Linked DNA regions of Homo sapiens. The protein of the gene in region 1 purifies or fractionates together with the protein of each later gene. This does not show direct contact. Each region holds a gene or a part of one and is shown on either strand. Other genes may lie near its edges. The genes, in order: NAIP and XAF1.

The links.
Region 2: the proteins of NAIP (region 1) and XAF1 purify together in Homo sapiens (affinity purification with western blotting, with the first as the bait; one study listed by BioGRID). This does not show direct contact.

The regions. Positions count from the first base shown.
Region 1 is NC_000005.10:71,011,791-71,015,611, reverse strand, and holds part of NAIP (baculoviral IAP repeat-containing protein 1), read left to right. Parts: intron 1-2,693; 5' UTR 2,694-2,696; coding exon 2,697-3,264; intron 3,265-3,821. UniProt on the Homo sapiens protein: Anti-apoptotic protein which acts by inhibiting the activities of CASP3, CASP7 and CASP9. Can inhibit the autocleavage of pro-CASP9 and cleavage of pro-CASP3 by CASP9.
Region 2 is NC_000017.11:6,762,495-6,766,315, reverse strand, and holds part of XAF1 (XIAP-associated factor 1), read right to left. Parts: intron 1-3,821. UniProt on the Homo sapiens protein: Seems to function as a negative regulator of members of the IAP (inhibitor of apoptosis protein) family. Inhibits anti-caspase activity of BIRC4. Induces cleavage and inactivation of BIRC4 independent of caspase activation.

The DNA.
Region 1 (3,821 bases):
TTTTTGTATTTTTAGTAGAGATGGGGTTTTGCCATGTTGGCCAGGCTGGTCTCAAACTCCTGACCTCAGGTGATCCACCCACCTCGGCCTCCTAAAGTGCTGAGATTACAGGCATGAGCCACTGCTCCCGATGGATTATATTTCAATATAATTCAATTATGCAATATAATTGCATAATTGTTATCATCTCTCCCTGATATATTATCGGAATGGATGTGACATCTGAATGGGGATGCTGTTGAGGAAAGAGATTTCATGAAATGTACAGTGAGTGGCATAATTGTGGCTCACTGTAACCTTGAATTCTTGGGCTCAAGTGATCCTTCTGCCTCTGCTCCCCGAGTAGCTGGGACTACAGGCATGTGCCAACACATCTGGCTAATTTTTAAAATTTTTTGTAGAGACAAGGATCTCACTAAGTTGCCTAAACTGGCCTCAAACTCCTAGCCACAAACAATCCTCCCACCTTGGCCTCCCAAAATGCTGGGATTACAGGTGTGAGCCTCCACACTTGGCCACTTACTTTCTTTTTGATTCCTATTTCAGGAGAAAATCATAATCAATTTGCATTTGTGTGGAAAGGCCACCAATGCACATTTAAGCTGCTCCCACAGGACATTTAAATTATCTTGCTTATTGCTACAACCTAATGAGGAACAACTTAGATTTGATTGCACTGGAAAATACTATATCTTTTTTTTGTTTGTTTGAGATGGAGTCTCACTCTGTCACCCAGGCTGGAGTGCAATGGCGAGATCTTGGCTCACTGCAACCTCTGCCTCCCAGGTTCAACTGATTCTCCCGCCTCAGCCTCCTGAGTAGCTGGGATTACAGGCACCCACCATCATGCCCGGCTAATTTTTTTTATTTTTGTAGAGATGGGGTTTCACCATGTGGGCCAGGCTGGTCTTGAACTCCTGACCTCAGGTGATCTGCCCGCCTCAGCCTCCCAAAGTGCTGGGATTACAGGCATGAGCCACTGCGCCCAGCTAATACTATGTCTTATTATATTGATGATAATAATGTTAATCTCTCAATCCAAATATCCAGCTAAGACTGAATTGGAAGTGCTTGTTAATCATATAACCACCAGGGAGGGATGATTAACTGGCTAAAATGCAAGGCTTAGAATAAATGGTAAAATTCTTAGAAATTACTTGGGCTAGGCTGGGTGTGGTGGCTCACGTCTGTAATCCCGGTGTGGGAGCTGAGATTGCGCCACTGCACTTCAGCCTGGGCGACAAGGACAAGAGTGGGAAGCCAAGGCAGGCGGATCACTTGAGGTCAGGAGTTGGAGACCAAGCTGGCCAACATGGCAAAACCTTGTGTCTACTAAAAATACAGAAATTAGCCGCAATTGGTGGCACGTGCCTGTAATCCCAGCTACTCAGGAGGCTGAGGCAGGAGAATTGCTTGAACCCAGGAGGCGGAGGTTGCAGTGAGCCGAGGCCACGCCACTGCACTCCAGCCTGGGTGACAGAGTGAGACTGTCTAAAAAAAAAAAAAAAGGAGGAATTACTTGGGCTAGAGCCACTAGAAACATTCCCAAACAACCAAAATTAAGTTGCTAGCTACAAGACAGAGGAAAAAGGCACGAAAATTAGTTCAATTTCTTGGTTCCTGGAGAAATCACATACCATGTTTGGGAATTTTATCAACCCTTATTCTCGAAGTTAAGAGGGAATGGGGAGCTAATTTACATGGGGCTTTGAAAAATGAACAAATGGGAGACTTTTTGGGAACTTCGAAGAGATTACTTTGGGGCCATAGCACCTCAGTGTTCAAATGATGTTAGCAATGTCAGCAACCGACTCACGCTGATGGAGCTTCTTACCAAAGCCCGTGACTGCCCCTCAGGGATGGTCATGGGGATTTGACACTAGAAAGTTACCCGAGGCTTCTGGCAGGTATATGTCCTTTGAAAAACAGTCATTGGCCTGTTACTGAGCTTCTTTTTTTTTTTTTTTTTTTTAAGACGGAGTCTTGCTCTGTCACCCAGGCTGGAGTACCGTGGCGCGATCTCGGCTCGCTGCAAGCTCCACCTCCTGGGTTCACGCCATTCTCCTGCCTCAGCCTCCCGAGTAGCTGGGACTACAGGCGCCCGCCACCACGCCCGGCTAATTTTTTTTGTAGTTTTAGTAGAGATGGGGTTTCACCTTGTTAGCCAGGATGTTCTCCATCTCCTGACCTCGTGATCCACCTGCCTCGGCCTCCCAAAGTGCTGGGATTACAGGCGTGAGCCACCGCGCCCGGCCAGAGCACCGAGACTTAAAACATGAACACAAAATAATGATTTTTTAAAACTGAGTAATTCGATCAAATTGTTGCTGCCAGGCTATACAATTTTGTCTATGTTTTTCTTTAATATAAATGTTCAGTATATGCTCATGTTACCACATTGTGTCCATAACTGATATCTGGAAAGCTTCATGAATGGAGGCAGATGGGTGTCTGTCTTGTTGGTTGCTAGATCCCCAATGTCTAGCACTGTACCTGATATATAGTAGGTGCTTAGTAAATATTTGTTGATTAAGTAGATGAATACTGATGTTTCATAATTTTCCAACAATTTATCTTTTGTGTTGAAATTCCAGGCATTCCTTTAATTCCTGGTTTCTTCGGAAACAGTGGGAAATGCTCTTCTAAGAAAAATCTTACTATAAGGGATCAACCTGCTTTATTTTCCTTTTCAGAAAATGGCCACCCAGCAGAAAGCCTCTGACGAGAGGATCTCCCAGTTTGATCACAATTTGCTGCCAGAGCTGTCTGCTCTTCTGGGCCTAGATGCAGTTCAGTTGGCAAAGGAACTAGAAGAAGAGGAGCAGAAGGAGCGAGCAAAAATGCAGAAAGGCTACAACTCTCAAATGCGCAGTGAAGCAAAAAGGTTAAAGACTTTTGTGACTTATGAGCCGTACAGCTCATGGATACCACAGGAGATGGCGGCCGCTGGGTTTTACTTCACTGGGGTAAAATCTGGGATTCAGTGCTTCTGCTGTAGCCTAATCCTCTTTGGTGCCGGCCTCACGAGACTCCCCATAGAAGACCACAAGAGGTTTCATCCAGATTGTGGGTTCCTTTTGAACAAGGATGTTGGTAACATTGCCAAGTACGACATAAGGGTGAAGAATCTGAAGAGCAGGCTGAGAGGAGGTAAAATGAGGTACCAAGAAGAGGAGGCTAGACTTGCGTCCTTCAGGAACTGGCCATTTTATGTCCAAGGGATATCCCCTTGTGTGCTCTCAGAGGCTGGCTTTGTCTTTACAGGTACCTTGAAATTATTCTCTGAAGTGTTTCTCTGGCGTTTTAAGTTTAGGTTTTATTTTTCAATTGCTTTTGCAATATTTTGCTAAACTTTCTTCACTGGTTAAATGTGTTATATTAGGTATAAGGTCTAGTTTATTAAAATTCAACATCAATATTTTTATTTTTGCTTCATTTTCTATTTAGTACAGCCTGTGTTAATTTGTCAAATATATATAAAATAAGAAAGTTACGTCTCCTTAAACTTGGACCTTAGAAAATACTGGCTGTATTCTTAAGGTCCTGAAAAGATTAAATAACTCATGCGGTCATCCTGATCCCAGTCTCCTCACCCACCCTCCTTCTACTGCTCTTACATGATCTTTCTTTGATTCTTCTCATTGCTGCAGTATTGGAGGGTTTTGTTTGTTTGTCCTAGCCCCGCCATAGGGGTTATGATATATAAATCAGAGTTCTAACAATAACAACGATCATTTACTGAGTACTGTACCTACTTTATGCTAGGCATAGAGTGAGTACTAATTCTTATCCAATGAATTTACCCCTTTCTCTCCCATTTC
Region 2 (3,821 bases), on another chromosome or scaffold:
TCGTGGGAGACAATTAACAAGGGCCATAATAAGTAAGTAAATTAGATAATATGTTAGAAGTTGGCAAATGCTATGGAAAAAATAATAGAAGAAGGTAAGGGGTTGGTAAATATGTGATGGAGAGGGAGTTGCAATTTTAAATAGGTTGTTGTGGTACATCTCCTTGAGAAGGTGCCATCTGGGCAAAGACTTGAGAGAAGTGAGAGAGTTAGCTCCTGGAGTAGGGTGGGGAAGGTGAGGAGGTAGCTTCCAGCCAGAGGCAGTAGCCAGTGAAAAGGCCCTAAGGCATGGTATGCTCAAGAAACAATCAGGAGGCCAGTGAGCTGAACAGGAGTAGTACATGAGATCAAAGAGGTGATGAGATAAGAAGGGAGGCAAAGATGACATAGATCTCTAAAGCCACTGTAGTTTTGAGTTTGCATAAAATGGGGCAAGAATCAGTACAGAGATCTGAACAGAGGAGCCAAACAATCTGACTTGTATTTTTAAGGGATCACGTTGACCTCTGTGATGAGAATAGACTGTAGGGGGCAAGGTGAGAAGTAGGAAGACCGTTTAGGAGACTGCTGCAGCATCTGGGCTAGAGAAGATGATGGTTCATACCAGGGTAGCAATGCGGAGGGAAAGAGAAGTCGAGAGTGAACCTGAGATTTTGGCCTGAACAACTGGAAAGATAGAGTTGCCATCAACTGAGATGGGCCAAGCTGTGGCAGAGAGGATTCCATTTCAGATGTGTTACATTTAAGATGTCTATCAAGCATTCAAGTGAAGATGCAGTAAATAGTAATATACAAATCTAGAGTTTGGGGAGAAAAACCCAGACTGAGATATAAATTTGGAAGTGTCTGACTACATATGGCTTTTTAAAAAATTTTTAAATTTTTATTTATTTATCTATTTTTTGAGATGGAGTCTCGCTCTGTCGCCCAGGCTGCAGTGTAGTGGCGTGATCTCGGCTCACTGCAAGCTCCGCCTCCTGGGTTCACGCCATTCTCCTGCCTCAGCCTCCCGAGTAGCTGGGACTATAGTCACCCACCACCACACCCGGCTAAGTTTTTGTATTTTTAGTAGAGACGAGAGTTCACTGTGTTAGCCAGGTTGGTCTCGATCTCCTGACCTTGTGATCCTCCCACCTCGGCCTCCCAAAGTGCTGGGATTACAGGCATGAGCCACCATACCCGGCCTTACATATGGCATTTTTAAAAATCAGGAGGTAGGATGAAATAATGAAGGCAGTGAATATAGGTAGAGAAGAGACCAGAGACTAAGCCCTGGGGCCCCCCAAAATTAAGAGGCTGGGGAGGTAGAGAATGAGAGACCACCAATGTCCTTGAAAACCAGGAAAGTGTGGTACCCTGGAAGCCGAGAAAGTCCACTGAGGAAGAGGGAGTGATGAGCAGTAAATGCTTCCCATAAATTGAGAACTGAGAACTGAGCATTGGATTTAGCAATGCAGAGGTCATTGATTTTGACAAGAGCAGATTTGGTTAAAATGGAGAGCCAGACTGGAGTGGGAATAAGAATGAGAGAAGAAAAGATGGAGGCAGTTACTTATAGACAACTAGCTCAAATGTTTTTCTACGGAGGGGAACAAAGAAACAAGATGGTAGCTTATAGGAAATGGGATCAGAAGTATTTCATGTTTTTCTGGCTTTGGGTCATATTAATAAAAAGTTAAAGACTGAAAACCACAAAACCACCTAGTATACATGATTTCAATCCTTAATTTTCAAAATTAAAAAAAAATTCTTTTCGTGCAAGGCCATTGATATATAAATATTCAATAGTGGTACCCCTTTAAAAAGTTATTGTAAGAAATGTTAGGACAACCTAGAGATGTGAGACTTTGTTGTTACCTGCGTGTACAGCTCATTTAACCTCTCTCTGTTGCAGGACAGAGAGGGGAGAATTGCTGGAGCAGTGTAGCAAAAAACTTGTGTGACCTTGTGTAGGCAAAAAGAGAGGGTATATTATACCAGTAGGAGGGGATAGGCTTTAGAGAGGCACATAGGAAGCTCCTCTATGGTTAAGAGGTGGGAAGGCAAAGTAAGTGAGTGTGGATGCTGCCAAGGAGATAGATCTGGTGTTGGCTGGTTGTGGATGTCTTCTTTTCCTGAACAAGGAGATAAACCATTATCCCCATTTTCCTCAAAAGAAGAAAGAAGCTCAGAGAGGTTACACAGCCAGTAAGGGGCACAGCAGAACTAAAATTCAGAGTTTCTGAGCACAAATCCAGTTCCATGTGTATTGGAGCTCCCCACTTCCCTGTAGCCTTCAAATAAGTGTGTAGGTGCCCTGGTTGCCAGGCTGGACATTTGAAGGGAAGTAGTCAGCTTTACTCTTGTTTTGGTGCTCACCAAGTATTTTCTCATTCAAACAGAACACATGGACCACTTATAGGATCGAATAAACATCAGTACTAAGGAAAACAAGTCAGTAGGTGATTTCCACGTACAGCCAAGGCTGAGAATCCCGTGGCTGGGGCAGCGCATCTCAGACTTGAAATGCCTGGGAAATCATGTGACCCTGCATATTCTGATTTAGCATTTCTAGGGGGAGGGCCTGAGATTCTGCATTTCTAACAGGATTCCAGGTGATGCTCATGCAGCTGGTCCACAGACTGCACTTCAAAAAGCAAAGAGCTGAAAGGTGGAAACAATCCGAATGTTTACCAACAAGTAGAGAAACAAAATGTGGGATGACCGTAAAAAGGCCATTAACTTTGGGAGGCCGAGGAAGGCGGATAACCTGCGGTCAGGAGTTTGAGACTGGCCTGGCCAACATGGTAAAACCCCGTCTCTACTAAAAAAAAATACAAAAATTAGCCGGGCGTGGTGGCAGGCACCTGTAGCCCCAGCTACTCCGGAGGCTGAGGCAGGAGAATCGCTTGAACCCGGGAGGCAGAGGTTGCAGTGAGCCGAGATCACGCCACTGCACTCCAGCCTGGGCAACAGAGTGAGACCCTGTCTCAAAAAAATAAAAGAAAAGAAAAGGCCATTAAAAGGAATGAAATGCTGACACATGCCACAACTACAACACGGGCAAACCTTGAAAATGTTACGGTAAGTGAAAGAAGATGGTTACATAAGACCACATATTATATGAGTCTACTGATGTGAAGTGTCCAGAATAGACAAATCCATAGAGATAGAAAGCAGATTAGTGGTTGCCAGGAACTGGGAAGATGAGGGAATGTACAGTACCTGCTAATGGGTATAGGATTTCTTTTTGGAATGATGAAAATATTCTAGAACCAGATTGCACAACATTGTGAATGTACCAAATGTCTCTATAGTGATGGCAAATTTTACATTATACGTGGTTTACCACAATAGTAAAAAGAAAAAGAAAAGAGCGAAAAGCTGGATCGTCTCTATGGTTTCTTTAGTTTTGATATTCTGTAGTTTTAAGCACTGAAGTGTTAAGAAAGGTAAACAACTTTCTGCCCAAGGAGAAGGAGAAGAGTTCTTTGGAGAGAAGCCTTGGTAAGTTTCCCAAAGGGGAAATGCTCCATTCTGTGCAAAAGAAGGGAGCAACTTGGCACAGCAATGCACTAAACGGCGCTTAGGGGCTATGGAGGGAAGAACCTGTGAGTGTTCCCAGGCAAAATCAGTCAGTCAGTCAATCACGTAACTGCGCCTCTACAGAGTCCTCTTTTTGCACCAAGCTCTGATGTCAGGAAAATGGAAAAAGTCATGCAGTTTTGCAGGAAGCTCACAGTCTAATAGAGAAGACTCCCACATGGGACCGAAAACAGTAAGACAGGCCCTACTGAGGACCAAATTGCAATGTCCAGGCCATGAAGTTTGGAGATGGTCAGA